Linked DNA regions of Homo sapiens: region 1 is linked to region 2. The links come from fine-mapping of genetic effects on plasma protein levels. A gene starts in region 2. The other region holds a variant in brackets. All regions are shown on one strand. Distances are between the middles of the regions.

What was found. PIP is the chance, under the fine-mapping model, that this variant and not a neighbour inherited with it causes the effect. The UK Biobank Pharma Proteomics Project read protein levels with antibody pairs (Olink). The fine-mapping took linkage between variants from a reference panel, not from the people measured, so its PIPs are less certain.
Region 1: its variant is fine-mapped to the plasma level of the SELPLG protein (UK Biobank, PIP above 0.99).

Annotation. Positions count from the first base shown.
Region 1 is chr12:108,609,937-108,621,499 of GRCh38, forward strand. No RefSeq gene overlaps it. Among named protein-coding and RNA genes, the nearest start is that of TMEM119, 18 kb to the left of the region's middle. RefSeq lists a silencer at 57-351 and enhancers at 7,356-7,815, 8,396-8,445. The variant C/T (reference allele first, on the strand shown) is at 8,982.
Region 2 is chr12:108,629,055-108,640,676 of GRCh38, forward strand. It overlaps SELPLG (selectin P ligand), which reads right to left and starts at 4,840. Exons shown (of 2, transcript NM_003006.4): 1 at 4,686-4,840. MIR4496 (microRNA 4496) reads left to right here and starts at 6,756; the gene lies at 6,756-6,816. LOC105369968 (a long non-coding RNA gene) reads left to right here. Exons shown (of 3, transcript XR_007063449.1): 2 at 5,277-7,183; 3 at 7,341-11,622. RefSeq lists enhancers at 2,754-2,903, 4,312-4,361 and a silencer at 5,602-5,651.

The DNA.
Region 1 (11,563 bases), 19 kb before region 2:
GGCAGCCAGGAACTCTCTCTCCCAGGGTGAGCATTAACTGGCACCGACTGTGTGCCAGGCTGTCCACGCTCACTCCACCCTTCCAAATCCCTAGGAGTAGGAAGGATGCTTCTCCCCATTTCCTAGGTGAGGAAGGGAGGCTGCCAGAGGTCAGCAAGTTGCCCAAGGTCATGCAACTCCTAAGCAGTGGAGCCAGGATTTGAACCAGGGTCGCCTGACTCCAAGCCTTAAACCTAAGGCCCCCCTGCTCTCTGCCCCTGCTGCTTAAATTTTGTCGGTCCCATTGCCTCGCCTCAGCCCCTACGCCCTCTGCAAAGCCTCCCTTGCTAGTCCCTTTATTCACATGTTTCCTGATTCTCTACCATGTGCCAGGCACCAGGCAGGGACAGGGAGAGAGTGGACATGAGGGACACAGGCCCCACCCACAGGCAGCGCAAATCAATCTATCAACATCACTCTGACCGTCACCAGTGCCTTGAAAGGAAAAGGGGGTGTCCTAGTGAATATCTGGGGGCAGGGCTGCAGAGTGGGCCTCTCTGAGAAGGTGACATCCAAGCTGAGGCCTACAGGATGAGAAGATGCCAGCTGTGCAGATATCTGGGAACAGGGCCCCAGGCAGAAGAAACAGCAAGGGCAAAGGCCCTGAGGCAGCACTACCTGAAAAAGAGCAAGAGAGCTCGTGGAGCCGGTGCAGAGTGGGAGGTGACGGGAGCTTTTCTTCACCCGTCCAAGCTAGATGACTGTCAACAGATGAGATGGCATCTGAGCTGGGCAGGAGTCAGGGCCCAGAAGCTTCTGCTGATAGGATCAGACAATCCTGCTAGCCCACGCATTTGTTTGTATCCAGAAATTTGCGGAGGGGCTACTGAACCTCTCAGGAAAATCAGTTGAAGCCTCTCCCTCTCAGGGGCTTGGAGGTCGGGCACAAAGCCAGATAACAGGGACTCCAGAAAGAGCTACCTCAAGGGAGTAGTGGGCATCTCAGAACCAGGGCTGAGACTGACCACCGTTGTGAGAACTCACCCTCACTCGGCCACCCTGGCAGGGTCCCTGTGCCTGTGAAAGGGGCTGTGCTTGTGCCACTTTTGTGCTTAGGTCTCCCTGCCATGGGGCCCTTTCCTTTCTCCTTTTTTCTTGGCAGGAGCAGCAATAAGGCTGTCCCGACGCACATCTCGGCGTGGCGTTCTGGTTCTGCCAACCTTGGGCATAGGTGTGCCCAGTTCTGGGGGGCCCTGTGTGTGTGCTAGAAAAGAGGCAGCAACCACTGCAGCCCTCCAGCCACCAAGGGATGCACAACAACCATGTTCATGATGACACAGAAGCATCTCTGGGTTTCCAGAAATCTTTGGGAAGGGGGGTTCTGGGAATCCCACACTGCCGAAGGGGAAGCCACAGAGCTGGGTTTCTCTACCACGGCACTTTTGGACTTCTGTGCTGTGGGGGGCTGTCCTGTGCACTGTGGGATGTCGAGCAGCATCCCTGACCACCACCCACCAGATGCCCACGATCGTGACAACCAAACACGTCTCCAGACATGGCCAAATGTCCCCTAGGGAGCAAAATCATCCCCGGGGAAGAACCACTAGCTCAGAGCACTCCTGTTTGGGCATTAATAACTAAAGGATAAAGCCTGGGGCCACTAGATTTCCTAACACTTTGGGTTTCTTTCTGTCCATTTGGGAATATTAGGAAAACACAGAAAAGTTGAAAGAAGCAAATTAAGCTCACCCAAAATCCTACCCTCAGTGACTAACCTCTCTCAATAATTTGGTATATTTCCTTCTGGTCATGTTTTCTTCATACTTGATAATCCTACTAGCCACGATTTATGGAGGACTTACCTTATAGCCACGATTTATGGAGGACTTACCTTATAGCCACGATTTATGGAGGACTTAACCTTCTAGCGACTATTTACGGAGGACTTACTTTCTGCAAGGCATCATGCTAAGTACTTTCCATGCCAGTCTCATTAAATCCCCACAACACCCCTGCAAGATGATACTATTATTATCCCATTTCACAGATGAAAAAACTAAGGCTCAGAGTTCATTTAACATCATGTCAAGGGCATTTTTCCATATTATCCTTCAAAAACATCATTTTCAATTGCTGAATCATGTTTGATTGATCATACACCTGGGGCTGCCTTATTTTCTTTACCTCTTCCAAGTTGCTGGAATATTCCACAAACATTTCTGAGTCACCTACTCTGGGCTAGGATCACACTAGAGGCTGAGGGCAAAGATGAGTCACAATTCCTTCCCACAAGCACACAGCATTTTATGCCCAGGGACTGTGTGGGCGAGTGCATGAGTGAGGGGTCGAGAGACCTTGTGCCCCTAAATGCTCAGCAATCAGGTCTCTGTCCACTTCTGCCCCCAGGGGGCGGTACAGCATGATCACCACAAAAGTCCTCAAGGCTAACCATGTTTCGACCCTAATTCACACGACACCTCAAACACAGAGGTTTGATCTTTTGTCGACTGTCTCTAGAGGCAGTTGGGCTACGTCAGTGAAAGACATTAGAAAGAGTTGTTCACCAGTGGCTCATGCCTGTAATCCCAGCACTCTGGGAGGCCGAGGTGGGGCGGATCACTTGAGGCCAGGAGTTCCAGACCAAGCTGATCAACATGGCGAAACCCCATCTCTACTAAAAATACAAAAAATTAGCTGGGTATGGTGGTGCACACCTGTAATCCCAGCTACTTGGGAGGCTGAGGCATGAGAATCGCTTGGACCCAGGAGGCAGAGGTTGCAGTGAGCTGAGATTGTGCCACTGCACTCCAGCCTGGGAGATAGAGCGTGACTGTGTCTCAAAAAAAAAAAAAAAAAAAAGTTGTTCACACAGGAGCTGTTTGTCATTACCTGGTTTCTCTCCCAGTGGATATAAAAAATATCCCATCACGTGGGGTGTGAGAACATCTTTGCCATTACCAAGAGGTGTCATATCGGCAAAGGCTCACATCCTTTTCTGAGGAATGCCACCTCTCCCCACAGCTGCAGGTCCCGCCTCTGGGCAGACGTTCTCACAGTCCTGCCTCCAGGTTTTCCCTCTCTCCCAAGCTGCAGCCTTCTGCTGCCTGGTGGGAGGCCTCTCTCAGGGCAGTACCCATTACATCAACCAGGTTCATTCACCTGCACTCTGCAGGCCAGGCTGGAGTGCGGTGGTGCAATCATAACTCACTGCAGCCTTGACCTACCAGGATCAAGGGATCCTCCCACCTCAGCTTCCTGAGTACCTGGGACTGCAGGTGTGCGCCACCATGCCAGGCTAATTACTTAAATTTGTAGAGATGGGGTCTCGCTATGTTGCCCAACCCAGGCTGGTTTCGAACTCCTGGCTCAAGTGATCCTCACGCCTCAGCTTCCCACAGTGTTGGAGTCACAAGCGTGAGCCACGGTAACATACAATCTGGCCAGGCTGTATGTTATATTGTGTGATTCCGATGATAAGTTCTGGAAAAGACCAGTGGTTACCCTTGGTGGGGAGGGAATGATTTGGAGGGACTTGCAGGGACCCTGTAATATGATAGAAACTTGTCTTATTTGGGGGAGCCATTGATAGTCTCTGAGCAGGGGAACAGCCACAGAAGGTAAGGACATTCACAGGGGACTTCCAGGAGGTGTGGCTTCCTTGGGCTTCCCGGTCACTCAGTCCCTGGGAGGGGCAGGGACAGCAGCTGTGGAAGCTCCAAGGAGCATGCCCAAGGCCCTCTGCCCTCACACACGCCTTGGCAGACCTCTGGGCTCACACAGCCTTGGGAATTCCCCCCAGTTCTGCTTCTGGCTCCTTGAAGCTGTCCCTCCAGCGGGGAACTAATACAGACGTCTCCCATCTCATAGAAGGAGAAATCGGGGCCTGAGAAGGCGGTGGCATGCCCAAGGTCTCATAGAGTGAGTCCAGGGGTGGTGGAAGGACGCAGCCCCCTCTGCTCCCTCAGCAATCTTTGGCACCACCTCCTCCCCGGCACCCAGCTCTGTAGAGGCTTCGTGAATGGGCAGTGCCCAGTGACTGCCTCCCAGTGACCCCCTCTCCCAGTTGGGGATGCTGTGAGCACAGAGTGGCCTCCAGAGAGGAGCTCTGTGGCTGATGAGAAGTCACGCCAGGACCTGGCTTGGAGAATTGGAGATTTGGAGATTTGGGGACTTCCCAGCCCCTTCTCAAGGAGCCAGCCTTTGGTGGCTGGTGGCCCCAGAAAGTCTTAGGAGTTTACTCCCGAATCTGTGATTTTTCATGCTGTGTGGCCTTAGGCAAGTCACTGAACCTCTCTGGGCCTCCATTTGCTCATCCATAAAATGGGGTTGAGAATAAGACCTAACCTCACAGGGTAGGTCGACTTCTGCTATTGTCAAGGGTAATTGTTTACAGTGCCCCGGGCCCTATGAGCATCCCATGTTACAGATGAGGACTGTGAGCCTTGGAGAGACACATGGCAAAGACAGAACCAGGCATCAGACTGACTTCTGTCTCCTTCCCAAGTCTTCTGGGGAATGAAAAATCCCTGCCTTGTGTGACTCTTATCTGAGTGGGAAGGACACATAAGCAGTGGCCACTTGATGGCATAAGCAGACACAGAGACGCCCATTCTACACATGGAAAGATTGAGGCCCCAGATGGAGGAGGAATAACCTGGAGTTAACTGTTGGCCAACCAAGCTGGTCTCTGTGCCCAGGACTGGGGCAAAGACGGGGTGAAATACTGCCCCGCAGCAAGTAGGGTGATGGGGGTGAGCAAAGGAGGAGCCCAGAGACATGGCTGGATCCAAAAAGATCTCCAGGGCCTGGGGGAGCTGAGCCCTAAAAGTGGAAACAAAAGGCAGAGAGGGCAGGAGCCGTGGGGCATGGGTGAGGAGGAGTGAGAGGGCCGGTTTGCCCAGACAGGCAGACATATAGGTGAGTGGGCAGCGAGTGAGGAAGCTGGAAACTTCTTGTGGACTTGGGCACTGGGGAGCCATTGATAGTCTCTGAGCAGGGGAACAGCCGCAGAAGGTAAGGACATTCACAGGGGACCTCAAAAGATGTGGCTTCCTTGGGCCTCCCCGTCACCCAGTCCCTGGGAGGGGCAGGGACAGCAGCTGTGGGAGCTCCAAGGAGCATGCCCAAGGCCCCCTGCTCTCACACATGCCTTGGCCGACCTCTGGGTTCACACAGCCTTGTGAATTCACCTGCTTGCCTGCTTGCTTATTGGTTTGCTTGCTTCTTGGGGTATATTTTACACACAGTAAAAAGCACCAATTGTAAAAATGCAGTTCAGTGAGTTTTGGCAAATGCAGACACCCGTATGACAACCAACCAGACCAAAATAAAACATGTTTCCATCATACCAGAGGGTTCCTGCAAGCCGCTGCTAATCATTTCCCACCCCCAAGAGTAACCACTGATCTTTTCCAGAACTTCTTATCATTGGAATCACACAACATACAGCCCAGCCAGATTGTATGTCACTGTGGCTCACGCCTGTAACCCCAACACTTTGGGAGGCCGAGGCAGGAGGATCAGTTGAGCCAGGAGTTTGAGACCAGCCTGGGTTGGGCAACATAGCAAGACCCCCATCTCTACAAAAAAATAAGTAATTAGCCTGGCATGGTGGTGCACACCTGCAGTCTTAGCTACTCAGGAAGCTGAGGCAGGAGGATCGCTGGAGCTTGGTAGGTCAAGGCTGCAGTGAGTTATGATGGCGCCACTGCACTCCAGCCTGGGTGACAGAGTGGGACCCTGTCTCTAAAAAGAAAAAAATATATAGCCTTTTGTGTCTAGCTTCTTTCAGTCAGCATGGTGTCTTTGAGATTCATCCATGTTGGCATGAGAATCAGTGCCTCACTCCTGTTTATTCAGAGTAATATTTCCTTGCACAGATGGACCACAGTTTATTTATCCATTCACCAGCTGATGGATATTTGGGTTGTTTTCAGTTTGGGGATCTTATGAACAAAGCTGCTGTACACATTTGTAGCAGTCTTTGTATGAACATCTGTTTTCATTCTCTTGGGGAGATACCTAAGAATGGGATTTCTGGCTTGGATGGGGAGTACATGGTGAGTACACGTCTAACTTTATAAGAAACTGCCCAACTGGTTTCCAAAGTGGCTGTATCATTTTGCATTCCCACCAGCAACATGTGAGTGTTCTAGCTTCTCCACATCCTCACCAGCACTGGGTGTTGTCAGTCTTTCTAATTCTAGTCCTGCTGGAGGGTGTGAAGTGGCATCTGACTGTGGCTTTAATTTGCATTTCCCTGATGGCTAATGACCTCAAGCATCTTTTGCAACAGCTTTCCTGGAACCTCCACCTGGAGGTTGAGCAGGCCCTGAGACCCAACTTGGCTGAACCCCAGCTCAGGACACTCCTCTTACCACCAGCCCTGCAACCTCCTTCCATGGCTTTCCCAGCCACCCCGTGGCACCCTCATCAGGATAGCTGCCCAAGTCAGAAACCTGAGATTTCAACCTCCTTTTTCCTCACTTCCAACCCATCAGCAACTCCTACCCTTTTCTTCCCAATTACCTCTCGATTCCACAACTTCTTTGCACCCTGCTCTAGTCCAGGTTCTCCTCATCCTCACACAGCCTCTTCCTCCTCCATGCGGCCACCCTGGCTCCTTCCAGCTGCCCCCACCTTGTCTGCTCCCCTAGTGCAAACTCCTGTGCCCATGATGCTCCCACTGCCTGGAACTTTCTTCCCTCTATCCCTTCCCTCCCAAGTCAATAACTCTGTGTCCTTCAAGTTTCAACCATGATTTTCCTGACCCATGCCCCCCAGCTCTGGCCCCATTGCTCCCAGCATCTCTCCTCTGGGCTCAGGGCCCAGCCATAATCTGACATAATCTGATCTTTTCCTGGGTGATTATTTGATCAATCTGTCCCCCTCTAGACCATGAGCCCCAAAGGGGTCTCGAACTCCTGGCCTCAAGTTATCCGCCCACCTTGGCCTTCCACAGTTCTGGGATTACAGGCCTGTCCTACTCACATGGCATCCCAGGGCCTCTCACAGTGCCTGGCACATTCCATAGTAATCGGTGGCTTGGTTGAGTGGCAAAGAGGGATGGGATCTGGGGAAAGAATTTGGGGAGCCCCTGCCAGATCAGCTGCTGGATGAACCACCCCCAGGGTGGCAGCCCCAGCCTGTAAGAGACAAGGGACCTGGAACAAACTGAGCCCATCATCCCCCGCCCCCCATTTCCTGTCTACCCTCCTTCCTTCCCTGCTGGCAGAGCTGAAGTCAGCACAGTGTGGTTTCCTAACCGTGCAACCGGCTGGAGCAAGTGGTTCAGCTTTCTGAACCTCGGTTTCCCTGGCAAGAAAATGGAACAATCATTGCACCCACATTATGAGGTTGAGTCCTAAATGAGATAATGCAGACAAACTGTTTGACAAGGCACTAGGTATGCAGTAAGTGCTCAGTAAAGGCCAGCTGCTTGCCCCCGGCCATCCCTCTTAGTCCTAGGCCCCAGCTCTGCTGTGTTGTGTTCTCTGCAATGAGAGGGCTGCGCTGTACTCGGTTACCCTCCCAAGGAACAGCGCCTTCCCTCAGCAGCCAGGAGCCACAGAGGGTGACTAATGGGGGACTTCCAGGCCCCAGGGCAGGTCAGCAGGGCTGAGGTTTTGGGGCGTGGGATTCCCCCAGAACCCCGCTGTGATCTCAAGGACAGCGTGACACAGTGGTAAGATCCTGGCTTTCAGGTCTGGGTTCCAATCTCAGATCCTCTTCATGACCTGGGGCAGGTGACTTCACCTAGCTCTCATCCTCAGTTTCATCTTCTGTAAAATGGGGAGAATACTAGAACCGTCTGTGAGAGCTGTTTGAGGGGATTCACGGGGATATTGCAGCTGTGTGTGTGTTCAGGATGTGTTTGCTGAATGGATGAGTGGGGTGATTCAGGCTGGTGGTCCTCAAGGGCATGGGAGGCCCAGGCAGGAGGGGAGGGCACAGGGGTGTGCAGGAGCCAGACTATATCTGCCCGTGAGAGCTAATCAACAAAATTTTCAGAATTTTGTGTCAGTTGTTTAATAAATTAAATTCTATTATATTAAAAGCCAAGGTCATCAGTACTCAAAACTCACCAATTCCTAATAATTGTACTACATTATCCGATGATCGATGCCCTTGTTACTAACACCTATTGTATCATCAACTATATAATGGTTGGTAGCTCAAAATCGGCTGTGGGAGTATTTACATGGAAGACATTGGCAAATGCTACAAATCAGGACTTTTTCCCATTGGAAGCCAGTTGTTAAACACTTAACAGCACGCCACTGGCTTTGGGGCTCCTTCCTGGCTAAATGATCTCCAAGTCTGGCCCAAGGGAAACGCAGGCTTCCACCTGCTCTAAGAGCTGGCGGCGGGCGCCCCCTGGTGGCCGCTTCAAGCACCCGGCTTCGCCCACCCTGAATGAAATCCCACACCTTGGAGAGAGAGAAAACTGTAAAGGGAAGGTGGCCCTCTTCCAACGCAAATGGAAATCTGTGGTTACACAGCATCCTCAGGAGCTGTCAGGAAATAGGGGAAAGCTCCCAGGAAGACGAGGTGACAAGATCCCTGGGGAACAACTCAGAGGTCCTTCAGCCTGAGTCCACAGCCCCCTGCTGTGGAGCCTTCAGCTCCCCTTCTCTGATTTTTCTGATCCCTCCCAAAGGGGAGGTAGACTCAGTCTCTCCTGACCCATCAGCCTGCCGACCCCGGGTGTTAACTGACCCAGCCCATGGCAGACACTCCCACCTTCTTCCATCAGCACCCCCAGGACACTTTGAACACACCTGCCTGTGTGTATCAGATTTGATCCTTCCAGAAGTTCAGGGGAGGAGACAGACACTGCATTTCCAATATGTGTGGGCCCTCTCCCCACTCCTCCCCGATGCTGTCCCATGGCCTTTCCCCCTGACGGCTCTTTCCTACCTTTCCCTTGTCTCTTTCCTCCAACCCCTCTCTCCCAAGCCACAGCCAACCCCTGCCAGACTCAACCTTCTCTGTGAACTCCC[C/T]TTTTCCGGGATAAACCATTGGGGGCAAGGAAAGAAGTCCTTCACTTCCAAAGAGGCCATTGAAGGTATTTTTTTTCTTTTTCCTTTTCTTTTCTTTTCTTTTTTTTTTTTTTTTTTTTTGAGACAGCTTTTCACTGCTGTTGCCAAGGCTGGAGTGCAATGGCATGACCTTGGCTCACTGCAACTTCTACCTCCCAGGCTCAAGTGATTCTCCCACTTCAGCCTCCTGAGTAGCTGGGACTACAGGCGCACATCACTGCACCTGGCTAATTTTTGTATTTTTTGTAGAGACGGGGTTTCACCATGTTGCCCAGGCTGATCTCAAATTCCTGAGCTCAAGCCGTCCTCCTGCCTCGGTCTCCCAAAGTGCTGGGATTACAGGCGTGAACCACCACACCCAGCCGGAGGTATTTTTCAAGAAGAAAAATAAAGACTATCCCCTGAGATGACTTTTATTCCTCTCCTAGAAGGTAGAACAGAGTCTGTTTAAGCGGCAGCTTCTTTCTCTCTCTATGGAAATGACTGGAAGGTATTTGGGAGCAGAAGAGCAAGAACTCTCCAAATCCTGGTTTTCTAATCTGACTGAAACTGCCTTTGCAAAAATTATAACTGAGGAAATGATGACAGTGGAAGAGACCAGACCGAACAGACTCCATCTTGCTTCTAGCCTTTAAGCTGTCCTTGTTCATTCCTTCCCCAAAGTTAGGCTGAACTAACTTTGGGAAATAATTCAGTTCGTGTTTTGACTCTGAAACAAAATTAATAATATCCCTTCCCCCCGAAAAGACCCCCTTCTTGCCTGGGGACCGATCTGCCTTTGCAGGACTAACAAATTAGCTACAAGATTCGAAATTATGGTTTAGGGGTCATGCAGCCTCTGGCTCCAAGAGTCTAAGCCTCCCCAAATTGCTCCTGTGGATAACATCAGTATTGTAAAACCTCAGAGCACTACGTGAGATATTTTGCAGACCCCGCACTGGATGGATCAGTTGACACCACCTAGGCTGGTATTCTGGCTCAACCAGTTCTGCCATCGCAGCCGGGAACAGAAGACATGAAGAAAACCTCACTGCAACCCCCTATGACTGTATCTCCAACCTGACCAATCAGCACTCCCAACTTCCCAAGTCCTTACCCGCCAAATTGTCGTTAAAAACTCTGATCCCCGTCTCCTGTACAGCCTGCTCTGCATGAATTACTCTGTCTCCCTTGCAATTCCCCTGTCTTGATAAATCGGCTCTGTCTAGGCAGCAGGCAAGGTGGATCCACTGGGCGGTGACCTGACCCCCACAAGGTAGTGTGAGTTTTGAATGGGATAATGCAAGTGTTGCTTAAATAGCAGGGCCAACCTGGTTTACTGGGGCTGAGTTTCACGGAATATGGGACTTTCAGTGCTAAAATCAAGAAAGTTCCGGGCAAACTGGGACGACTGGTCACCCTATGCTTAAAATCAGGCGTCAGCAAACTGACGGAGCTGAAATGAGCCTGCCGCCCGTTTGTAAATAAAGTTTTATTAGAACACAACCATGCGCATTCATTTATGGACATATTGTCAGTGGCTGCTTTTGTACTACAAGGACAGAGTTGAGTTGTTGCAACAGAGGCTATGGTGTTGCAACAGTTAAGGCCTACAGTATTCACTGTTTGGTCCTTTAAGAAAAAGTTTGGCAGCTTGAACTTTTCCACCATTTGACAGCAAATCAGTGCTTCTGTGAGTTGTACAAAAGGTTGCAGGCTGCATCTAGGATCACCAATAAGCTACTGGCTGTTAATGAGAGACAGGGCCTGAGTGAAAAGGAGAGGTCAGGGTGAGCTTCTGGAGAGTGGGAAAGATTCTGTGCTTGGCCAAGCTTTAATCAGTCAGGCCCCTGAGTCCTCTCCTAGGCCCATCTGTGCACTTCCTTTTAAAATCCAGTTCTGGGCCGGGCGTGGTGGCTCACACCTGTAATCCCAGCACTTTGGGAGGCCAAGGCGGGAGAATCACCTGAGGTCGGGAGTTCAAGACCAGCCTGACCAACATAGAGAAACACCATCTCTACTAAAAATACAAAATTAGCTGGGCGTGGTGGCGCATGCCTGTAATCCCAGCTACTCAGGAGGCTGAGGCAGGAGAATCACTTGAACTCAGGAGGCGGAGGTTGCAGTGAGCCAGATCGCGCCATTGCACTCCAGCCTGGGCAACAAGAGCAAAACTCCATCTCAAAATAAATAAATAAATAAAATCCAGTTCTAACAAGAACTCTGCTAAGTCAGCTTAGCAACAACCCTCCCCCCACCACTCCATATCTGATCACCTCCCATATCTGATCACCTCCTATATCTGATCACGTTCCTCATCTGCCACCATCCCCCCGGTGATGTCTGAGCACCCTGGCCTGCCTCCAGTATGAATCCTGTTAGGTCAGTGTAGAAAATGACCGAGAACCCATCCCCAGCAGTCAGTTTAGCCAGAATTCCCCTTCCCCTGATGTTTCCTCTTGGTAATTTTCCAGCTGCAGATATCCAACCCTGTTCCCTGGCTATCAGCTCCCACTTGCCCCTGCTGTACTCATAGTTGAGCCCAAATGCCCCCACTGCAAAAT
Region 2 (11,622 bases):
GCAGAGGAAATGGAGGTCTCAGACTCAGAGGGTATGGAGATGGCGGCCTCTCTACCTCCCCTGTGGGTGTTTGGGCTTTGAGAAAGCAGAGACCTCCGTACCTGTTATGATAAGACCTGGTACATTCGGAAAGCCCAGACCTCCTTTCCTGGGCCCGTCTAAAGCAACCACCTTATCCTACATGTTCCTGGTGTCAGTGCTGAAAGTCCCTCAACCCCAGAAACCCCTCACTCCCAGGCAAACTGGGGGTGGGGGGTTGTTGGTCACCCCAGCCTGGTCCCTGCCATCCCACTGGCTTTAAGACACAGCAGCCTGGAGCCAGGCCACAGCTGAGCAGGCATCAGCCCATCTAACAGAAAGAAAATCTGAGGCTCAGCCAGGCACGGTGCCTCGAGCTTGTACTCCTAGCACTTTGGGAGGCCAAGGCAGGAGGATGACTTGAAGGCAGGGGTTCAAGACCAGCCTGGGCAACATACTGAGACCCATATCTACAAAAAAATTAAAAATTAGCCAGGTATGCTGGTGATGCCTGTAGTCCCAGCTACTCGGGAGGCTGAGGCCAGAGGATGGCTTGAGCCCAGGTCAAGGCTGCAGTGAGCTATGATCGCACCACTGCACTCCAGCCTGGGTGACAGAGTAAGACCCTGTCTCTAAGAAAAAAACATATTTTTTTTAATGAAAGAAAAGAAAACCCGAGGCTCTGAGAGATCTTGTCTCAGCTGAGGCCACACAGGTAGAAGGGGGAGGAGCTGAGTTTTCTCACCGTGTATGGCAGGTAGCATAATACCTCCTTAATATTTGCTACAGTAAATGTATTATACAACAATAAAAATGACATATGTGGAAGCCCCTCCCACGGAGGGATGATTTCATCCTCTCACTATCTGGTGACCTCATTCCTCCTCACCCCTGTGTTCACTGGCTCTAACGGTGCCATCACACTGATTAGCAAGCAAGGCCCGGAGCGGCGGGATCACTCCCAGGCCCCACCTTCCACCTCTCCTCTTCCTGGAAGGCCAAAAAACAGTCCCACAGAAGTGGGGCCAGGGCAGGGCTCCGACAGAGGCGTCTCCAGTGACCACGTCCTATTTGTCTCAACACTTGCCTAACAGAGTAGGTCAGAGACTGCTCGTTTGCCTCTTTCGCCCTAAAACCAGGCTGCTTCTGGCCCAGGCCCCATCTAGACCCCATATGGGCCCCATCTAGGCTGTGTGGAGGAGCAGGCTGCAGGGGGCCCAGACTCCAGCTCCAGAGAACCCGCCGTGTGGCCGCCCTGAGCTGCTCAGGAAAGATCCTCGTGGGGCTCCACGCCGCTAGGAACCTTGCACTGAGAATCCTGAAACTGGTGGTCAGAGCGGGCAGGATCTTGGAATGCTAAAATTCAAAAGACTGAGCATCTCAGGGTTTGGGTCAAGTAGTCACCAAGAGAAGGAAAGACCCCAGATAACTGAGGCACAGGCAGCAGATCTAAGTCTGGGTAGACAGGACAGGCCCTGCCCTGCCCTGCTGTGCCCTGGGAGTCACATCAAACCAGGTCAATCCCCAGCTCTGTCCCTTAGAAGCTGTGTGACCTGGGGCAACTCACCTCACCTCTCTGAGCTGTGGGTTCCTTAGCTGGAATACAAGGACAATGGTAGCACCCGCTTTTTATGGGGTTGTTGTGGGTTGAAGAGGGCCAGGGAAATGCTGAGTCCTCCCAGAAGCCTTTCCAGATTGCCCCAGGCACGATTAGTCACCTCCCGTGTTTAAATCATTTCTGCTGTTCATTTATTTTCTAAAAATGTATTCACATTGACTCCTAAACTTCCAGAAGGCAGGAACCACAGCTGTCTTGCTGATCAGGCCACAGGCCCAGGATTCAGCCGATGGGCAGGCACACACCCCTCGCAACACTCGCCCCAGTGGCTGGCAACCACTGTGGCTGTCTGCTCTGCTGCCCCCACCAGACCACAAGTTTTTGGAGGGCAGGAGCTCTCCTGGGTCTCCTGGCATCCCCAGGGGCCTCACTAAATGCCTCTGCAGAAGAGGACATGTGACTGAGGCAGGGGAACGTGCACAGAACTGCACAGCACGTGCTGTCTTCACACTTTTCACACCACATTTGCCAGCTGACACTTTGCAACCTCTTTCCGTCATCTACCTCAACTCACATCAGGGAGTCTCTGTAGACATTTTTTCCCACTTATCATCGCCCTTATGAAAGGTTTATTTATTTATTTAATTTTAGAGATAGGGTCTTTCTCTGTTGCCCAGGCTCGACTACAGTGGTGCAATCATAGCTCACTGCAGGCTTGAACTCCTGGGCTCAAGCGATCCTCCCAAGTAGCTAGGACTACAGGTGCATGCCACCAGACCCGGCTACTTTTAAATTTTTTGTAGAGATGGGTTTTCCCCATGTTGCCCAGGTTGGTCTCAAACTCCTGGGCTCAAGCAATCCATCTGCTTCAGCCTCCCAAAGTGCTGGGATTTATAGGCATGAGCCACGGTGACCAGCCCTCCTCATGAAAAGTTAATAGCACAGATATGCTGTATATCTGTTTAATGTTTGGTGGCTTGCAAACCACAGTGTTAGTTGAGATTTTTTTGTTACACCCCCCTCCCTACCCTCCACCCCACCAAGAACCAAGTTACACCTGTTGGAACCCAAACTTGCTGGCCTGATCCAGAGGCAGTAAGGTACTTGGCACAAATGAATTCAATGAGACCTACATCTGGTTAGTTGAACAACTGTCTTTAAACAGTTTTCTAAACACCCCTGTGTAGACAGACAGATTAACAAACACAGACCCCCAACACACACACACCAGCCATCTTATCTCCTTCTAGACCACTGGCCCCCACTGCCATCTTCCTGTTCAAGTTCAGCAAAGGAAGCCGAGACACAGGCCTAGGGTCACCACGAACTCCATGGGCATCCTGCAGCCAGAAGCCATGCCGCCAGAGGCAGCTGCTTCTCCCCTTCAAGCCTCAGTTTTCTCATCTGTAAAAGGGGCACTGTCCACCCTCCAAGGTTCTCGGATGATTGATTCCCCAGCTCCTCTGAATGCCCCACTCTGGGCCCAGCCTAGCAACCCAGCCCTTCCGCTCTCTGAGGTTTAACTCCCCTGGCTGCTGGCCAAGCCTGCTGAGGGAGGCATCAACCACCCAGGGCACGGCCTCGGAAGAGACTCTGGGGCTGTCTGAGGGCCTGGGAGCCACCTTCTGAGGCCCCGGCCCACTGAGGGGCCTGGCTCTGGGGGCCTCAAAGTCAGAGATGGAAAAAAAAGGAAAACAGAAGAAAGAGGAAAGAGGAAGAGAATTCCAGGCAACAGAAGCCCAGATATCGACAATATGGGGTGTGTGTGTGTGTGTGTGTGTGTGTGTGTGTGTGTGTGAATGTGTGTACAGCAGGGCACAACTGGCCCCCACCATTTCCTTTTAGTGTCCTGAAAGTATCTCAAATACAAACTAATAAGAGTATTCTAATTTTTTTTTTTTTGAGACAGGGTCTCACTCTGCCACCCGGGTTGGAGTGCAGTGGCACAATCTCGGCTTACTGCGACCTCCCCCTCCCAGGTTCAAGTGATCCTCCCACCTCAGCCTCCCAAGTAGCTGAGACCACAGGCATACACCACTACACCTAGCTAAGTTTTTGTATTTTTGGTAGAGACGAGGTTTCACCATGTTGCCCAGGTTGGTCTAGAACTCCTGAGCTCAGGCCAACCACCTGCCTCGGCCTCCCAAAGGGCTGGGATTACAGGTGTAAGCCACTGCACCCAGCCAAATATTCTAATTATTATTATTATTATTGTTTTCCCTTTTGCTAACAATAGTATCTTAATTCTAATATTTTAATAGTTTGCCACAGACAAGTGTCATTTCCTCAGTCTTATAAAAAGTGGGAAGAATGCATCTTTCTCTGAAAAGAACTTTTTTATGCGTCCATAACATGCAGCTTCAAGAGAAATCCTGCACTCCCCCTACTTTCTGGAGTCTTCCAGACCTAATCTCAGCTCTGCCCCTAAACAAATCCCTTCACCTCTCCCGACCTCAGTTTCCCATCCAGGAAAGGAGAGGATAAGATCATTTCTAGGGAAACACTCATGGTTTCTCTGATTTTCAAAATCAGAATGCCGCCAAGCCAGACGCTGCAGGCAAACTGGCCAGGGAGGGAAGTAAGTTAATGGGAGGCTGGGGCTGGTGGGTCACACCTGTAATTTCAGCACTTTGGGAGGCCAACGCAAGAGGCTTGAGGCCAGGAGTTTGAGACCAGCCTCGGCATCAAAGTGAGACCCCATCTCTAGGAAAGGTAAAAATATTAGCTGCATGCGGCGATGTGCGCCTGTAGTCCCAGCTACTCAGGAGGCTGAGGTGGGAGGATCACTTGTGCCCAGGAGTTTAAGGCTGCAGTGAGCCATGATTGTGCCACTGCACTCCAGCCTGGGTGACAGAGTAAGACCCTGTCTCAAAAAAAGAAGGAAAAAAAAAGTTGGCAGGAGCAGGATTCAGAAGAGTCACAGAATAAGGCCACAGACTCCAGGAAGACTTTAGTCTTGAGTCGGAGGAGCCTCAGTTTGCCCTCCCCAGGTGCTGCAGCTCAAGAAGGGCCTGGCGGTCCTACCCGGGCCTGCCAGCAGCTATAAGGCAGGCCCTTGGCCCATGGGGACCTCCAGCCACTCCCTGTGGTTTTGCAAGCCAGCACTTACCACCGTGCTCAGCAGAGCATGGGACAGCTGCCTCGTGGGCCCAGAAGAAGTGGCTTCTCTGCTTTAGTGACAAGGTCCCAGCCCACGCTGCCAGGCACTGCTGTGGCACCCCCTGCGGCAGTCCCGGATCCGAGCAACCCCCAATGGCTGTGTGTGGAAGGAGGAAGCGAGAATGTGGTTACTTAGGCAGGGCCATGTGACAGCCCACACCCCATTGTTTGTGACAGCTTTGGTGACAACATTGATAAAGACAGGGTGGTAGTGGGGCACCTCCTAGGTCTGACACTGTTCTTGGGTTCCCATAACTGTGAAAACACTGAGAACCAAGTAGAAGCTTTCTGGGGAGAAGTTCTTCGGTTTTGGGTGGGGCCCAAACTGAGAAAGGCCACAGCATTACTTCAGCAGCAATGGACAGTCGGGGCCAGAGGGAGCCCCCTGAAGGACAGGAGTGACCAGAGAAAAAGGAGAATGGTCTCGCTTCTTGCCCAAGATTGGTGGGGCGTGGGGAGGGGTGGGAGGTGGTCAGGGAGCAAAAAACACAAAATATGAACCTTCAAAGGGTTTGCAAATATGGTGTATTTCTTCTCGCAGGACTCAAAACACTCTCTGTAGATGCACAGCACAGGCCCTTTCAGCTGCAACCAAGAGCCTCTCTAGGGAGCTGGACTACAGATACCACAAGGGCAAGTCCTGCTTATCTTATTTCTTCATCCTAAATTTGTTCATTTGACCAACTCTGGCACTCCAGACTGCATGCCCTGAGGTCTAAAGGCCAGCAATTCTGGGCTGTGGCCCTCTGGTAGCCCTCCATCCAATGGGGAGGCCAGCGAGTAAACAATTCGGTGGAACATCATGCCACAATGACACAGCGCAGTGAGTGCCATCCTGCGGTGAGCAAGGGAGGGGCCTCTCCTTCCATCCTGGGTGGGGGAGGGAGGTTAACAGGAGGAGCTTCCAAGAAGTGGCACTTGAGATGACAAGCCAGGTGGGCATCCCAGGCAGAGAGCACAGCAGAGGCAAAGGCTGGGAGGCCTAAGAATACCCAGACACTTCCAGAAGGGAGGGAATAGGGGGGTCTCCCAGGATCTGCCCTGCGGCTTTGCACCAGGCAAGGGCTCAGGACATGCACAGAAAGATACTCATATCTTGCCTTGCACAAAGTTGTTTTTTTTTTTTTTTTTTGAGATGGAGTTTCACTCTTTTTGCCCAGGCTGGAGTGCAATGGCACAATCTCGGCTCACCGCAACCTCCGCCTCCCGGGTTCAAGCTATTCTTCTGCCTCAGCCTCCCGAGTATCTGGGATTACAGGCATGTGCCACCACCCCGGCTAATTTTGTATTTATAGTAGAGATGGGGTTTCTCCACGTTTGTCAGGCTGGTTGGTCTTGAACTCTCGACCTCAGGTGATCCACCTGCCTCGGCCTCCCAAAGTGCTGGGATTACAGGCGTGAGCCACCGTGCCCAGCCGCACACAGGTTGTTTTAAAATGAAAACCAGAGACCCAGCAGGTGTTCGCCATGACACAGTCTCAGCCACCTTAAGAAGCTGCAGCTGGAAACAGCCAAAAGCTCACCCTGCCGGCACGGACAGGGAAACTGAAGCCACAAGAGGGGAAGTGAGACCCCTAGAACCCAGGCCCCTCACCCTTCCCCAGCAGGTTTGGAAATAGCCATCCTTCAGGGACAGGGGACTGAGAAACTCTAAACACACCCAAGACTGCCTGCAGGTCACTCTCTGATTAGCGGAGGTGAGTGGTTGCAAGCTGTCTGTCACATCCAGCCTGCCACGTGGTTTTGTGCAGCTTGTGAGCTAAGAATGGTGGTTACATTTTTAAGTGGTTGGAAAATGTTTTGTGATGCATAAAAACTGTGCGAAATTCGAGATTCCGTTTTCATAAAGTTTTCTTGGGACACAGCCACACTAATTGGTGTAAACATATTGTCTCTGGCTGCTTTCACGTTGCAGCGGCAGAGTTGAATAGTTTCATCACCTGCAAAGCCTCACAACACAAACGCTTAACGTTTCCTGAGCCTGTGGTCAATGCCAGACCCTGTGGTAGGTGCTTTGCATACATCAGCTCATATAATCCTCGAAGCTGCCTTTAGAAATGAGGAAACTGAAGCTGAGAGGGAGAATGTGCCTTGCTCAAGGGCACACAGAGTAATGGCAGAGCCAGGACTCAAGTCCAGGCACATGAAATAATGTTCTTGATCTTAACCCCTAGCCTGGGATGGTGCAGGCTGAACGGTGAGCTCCAGCACATCAGCAATTACTATATGTAAGGAAAAAGGAGTAGCTTAGCAGCAGGTAAGCTATTTCTTCTGTGTGTGTGTAATAGGGTCTTGCTCTGTGGCCTAATCTGGAGTGCAGTGGCGTGGTCATAGCTCACTGCAGCCTCAAACTCCTGGTCTCAAGCAAGCAATCCTCCTGCCTCAGCCTCCCCAGTAGCTGTTACAGGAGCACACCACCACGCCCAGCTCCAAGTAATCTATTTCAAGGTGAGACTTGAGCAGTGAAATTTCCTTCTCAGAGGAGCAAATATTGCTAAGATAAATCTGGTGTATGTCGTCTGTGTGAAGACCATAAAACCACACTTCACCGCACCTGACATCTGTGAGAGTCAAAGACTCAAAGTGAATATGTTTCTGCTTCTAGGAATGAAGCCCAAGAAAAATACTCCAAGTTGCCTTCCAAGATTGAAGCAATGATATCTGAGGTGAGAGAAATATTGGGAAAAAACACAGACTCCCCTACTACAGAAACCTGTCCCTTGATGGAATGTGACGCAGGCATGAAAGTTATATTTATACTGAATGCTTATAAAGCACTCAAGACCTGTTAGGTAGAAAAGAGAGGGCACAGAAGTATATAAACAGCATAATTCAAGTGTGCTTGCATGCTGAGAGGACAGACTGAAAGAAATGCTGACGGTGCCTATCTCTGGGTGGCATAATTATTAATGCCCCTTTCCTTTTAAATATATTTTCTTTTCTATATTTGTATATAGAAAAAATGTATATAATGATGTCTATTTTACTTTTTTTTCTTTTTTTTTTTTTTTTTTTTTTTTTTTTTGAGACAGAGTCTCACTCTGTCGCCCAGGCTGGAGTGCAGTGGCACGATCTCAGCTCACTGAAACCTCTGCCTCCTGGGTTCAAGTGATTCTCCTGCCTCGGCCTTCCTAGTAGCTGAGATTACAGGTGCTCACTACCATGGCCTGCTAGTTTTTGTATTTTTAGTAGAGACGGGGTTTTGCCATGTTGGCCAGGCTAGTCTCAAGCTCCTGGCCTCAAGTGATCCACCGGCCTCCACCTCCCAAGGTGCTGGGATTACAGGCATGAGCCATCATGCCTGGTCTACTACTTTGTTTAATTGTTACAACTGCCTCATGAGGTAGGTACTATTAGTATCCCCATTTTGTAGATTAAAAAAAATGTTCCAGAGAGGTTAAGAAACTCGCCTAAGGTCACAGAGCTAGTAAGTGGCAAAGCCAGAGTCTGAACCTAGGGTGTCCTATGAAAGAGCCTGCATTCAATCACAATAAATATTGGTTCAATATATAAGTGATTCCAGCTCCTCCTTGCAGACCTTGCCTGCTGTGATTGGTCTAAGAGGACCCAGTTCTCCCCACCTCCTCGCAACACCGTGTGAGCCTGCTTGGGGTGTGGAGCAGGAATTGCAATCAGCAAAGCCAGTGGGTGTTAGGTTCCTCTCTACACTGGAGCCCAGTAGTGGGCTAGCCTAGGAAGCAAGAGCTGTTTATGGGTCTTCTGAGAAAAATGTGCTCCTGGTTGTAACTAACTGCCTGCTACTGTTGGAACAGCCCCATGTTAAAGCAAAAACATGGCTCATTGGGCCCCTACTTGGAGCTCTCTTACAAGTGGATCCTGAGCAACTAGAGATTTGGTATTCAAACAAACAACCTATAACCTCTTTATACTTAAATGATCATCCGTGCACTAAATTCAGTCTTCCTTCCATTCGCTGATGGATGAAAATGCCTGCAGCCTCATGGTGGTCCCCAGTCCCCAGAGGCAACACCACAGCCTGTACAGCTGCATGTGTGCAGTGGTCTATTTAATTGCGTTTTGCTTCTTTGTTGTTTCGGGGTGGGGAACTGTTCCCACCAGTGACAAGCACAGCTGTAATAAAGCCTCATATTATAGAGACAAAGAGAGGAAGGCTTGGAGGCTTGGGTGCCAAAAGCCAGCGCAACTTAGCTTCAGCCTGGTATTTACCAAGCTTAGGTTGGTCAACAGTACAGTTATTAAAGAAAATGAAAAATTAAACATTTGTGGAATCCTGAACATATGTGGCTAGGCAAGGACTATAACTGACAGGCCAGGTATAGCCTGAGATTTTATAATCTATGTGTAACTTGTCAGGAACTGTTATCCCTCCCCGACCAGGTGCTGGCTTCCTATGCAAACCTGTGTCCGCTTCCCTAAAAATGGGGAAAACAGGGGTGACGTCGCTTATAGAATCCCACCTCCCTTGCCAGTGGTCACTGTCCCTCCAAGGAAACTGAGGCTCCCTGGTGGCGCAGGAGGGCACAGGCGGACCGGAGCCCAGCCAGACTGCAAAGCCCATTAAAAGCCTGTTCCTTCCTCCGAGGAAAGCAAGAGTCTTGCTGGTTGTGCCGCTTGTTTCTCAGGGCAGTGGTCTTTTCAGTTTACTCACAATGGGACCTTTTGTTCGAATGAAAGCAACGGTCTCATGAAATAGAATAAGAACAGAGCTGCTCGCAAGCAAGGCCCAGAAGGGAGGAGGGGAAGTCACGCCCAGCTGCCTGCCCTCCCCCGTTCCCCTGCTGCTAGGGGGGCTCACGGGCTACAGCTTGCTGATTTGAATCATCCAAAGGGGAAATGGTCCACTGTGGGCCTGCTCCAGCCAGGATTCAATTCCCTTTCTCAAATGGGAACAGAGCTCTGGGGAGTTCACTTTCGGCCCCAGATTTTCGCTGCCAATCTGGGCGGCACTAGGAACCAGTTTCTGGGCTGGAGACTGCAGCATGAAGCCATTCCTCCAGAGTGGAAGAAAACAGGGGCTCCCCAGCTCACTGGGTCTGCTTGGGCTGGGGGTAGCCAGCGCTGCTGGTCCCAGACCTGGAAGGCCAGAGGGCAAACAAATGTTAGAAATGTACTCCAGACTCCGTGATTCTTCCCCAGAGGGTAGTGGCTGAAGGAATCCATGCCTCTGGCAGACATCCTCAATCACCTGGCCTCAAAGACCCCTGGGAAGGGGTCTTTAGGGGAGAGACCTTGGTGTTGTTTGAGGAGGCCAGGGGCCTGGCAATAGGAGTCCTGGGATATTTTGTGGAATTTAAGATCAGAAATAAAGCTGGACCTTAGGCATGGACTCGGGGAGCTACAGGGACCCAGAAGCCCTTTCTTCATCACTGTGTATCTGCTCTGCCTGCGTGGTCCCTGGCTTCCCCAACTCCCAGGCCCCCATAAAGGAAAACCCAGATCTGATGCCACTGATGGTGGCTCCAAGGGGCTCATAGGTCACCTGGAGTTGACTGTGCTCCGGGACAGTCTTATTCTGTGAGCAAAGTACCGCTGGGCGGATAATGCAATATGTGCTCCCATCCCAGATAATGTCTACATTTTCAACTATTCAGTCTTTCAGTAAGTACTGATTGGCACATCATGCCAGATTCTGGGGATCCTGGTGAAGGAAACCAGTGCCTGTCCTCATGCGGCTTATATTCAATTCAGGGAAGACACTCAAAACTCCAATGAGATGATAGATCAGCTATCAGTGCTACTAAGGTGCTACGGGCACTATTTACATATGGGGGTCAGGTGAAGTGCTGGGAAGGGCAGACACTGGAGGTGGGGAAAGGATGGGCACTCCCGAGAGAACAGCACCTGCGAAGCTCAGGGGTAGAAGGCCTCCTGAACACAAGAGAACATCAGGAGAGGATGAGGGGCGGCAGGGCAGGCAACACGGGGCCTCCTAAGCCAGTGGTGAGGATTTAGTTTTTATTCTGAGTGGGATGGGAAACCATGGAGGGTTTGAAGCCTTAGACACAGGGGTCAATGAGCTTTTTCTTAAAGGGCTACACAGTAAATATTTTAGGCTTTGTGGCCATACGATCTCTGTTGCAGCTACTCAACTCTTCAAGTATAGAGCAAAAGCAGCCACAGACAAGGCACAGTGTGTTCCAATAAGCTTTACTGATGGACACTGAAATTTGAATTTCATATCATTTTTACTTGTCACTAAATATTGTTTTTTCCCCCAACCATTTAAAAATGTAAAAAGCCTTCTTAGCTTGTGGGCTACACAGAAGCTTCCGGCAGGTTGGAGTTAGCCCATGGGCCTTAGCATGTCTTCCCCCACCTTGATACCTGAAAAGGTGACTATGGCTGCAGCTCTGAGAACAGATTCAAGTGGGTGGGGGAAGCTGGGTTAGGAAGCTGTGACTGTTAACCTTGTCAACTTGACTGGGCAATGGCGTGCCCAAATATCTGGTCACGCGTTACCCTGGGTGTGTCTGTGAGGGTTTTCTGGATGAAATGAACATTTGAATCTGTGGGTTGAGTAAAGCAGGTTGCTCTCTCTGGTGTGGGTGGGTGGATCCATTCAGTTGAGGGCCTGAATAGAACAAAAAGGCTGAGTAATAAGGAATTCCTTGCAGGCGTGTGGCTCATGCCTGTAATTCTAGCACTTTGGGAGGCCGAGGTGGGAGGATCACCTGAGGTCAGGAGTTTAAGACCAGCCTGGCCAACATGGGGAAACCCCATCTCTACTAAAAATACAAAAATTAGCCAGGCGTGGTGGCGCATGCCTGTAGTCCCAGCTACTTGGGAGGCTGAGGCAGGAGAACTGCTTGAACCCAGGGGGTGGAGGCTGCAGTTAGCCAAGATCGTGCCACTGCATTCCAGCCTGGGCGACAGAGTGAGAGACTCCATCTCAAAAAAAAAAAAAA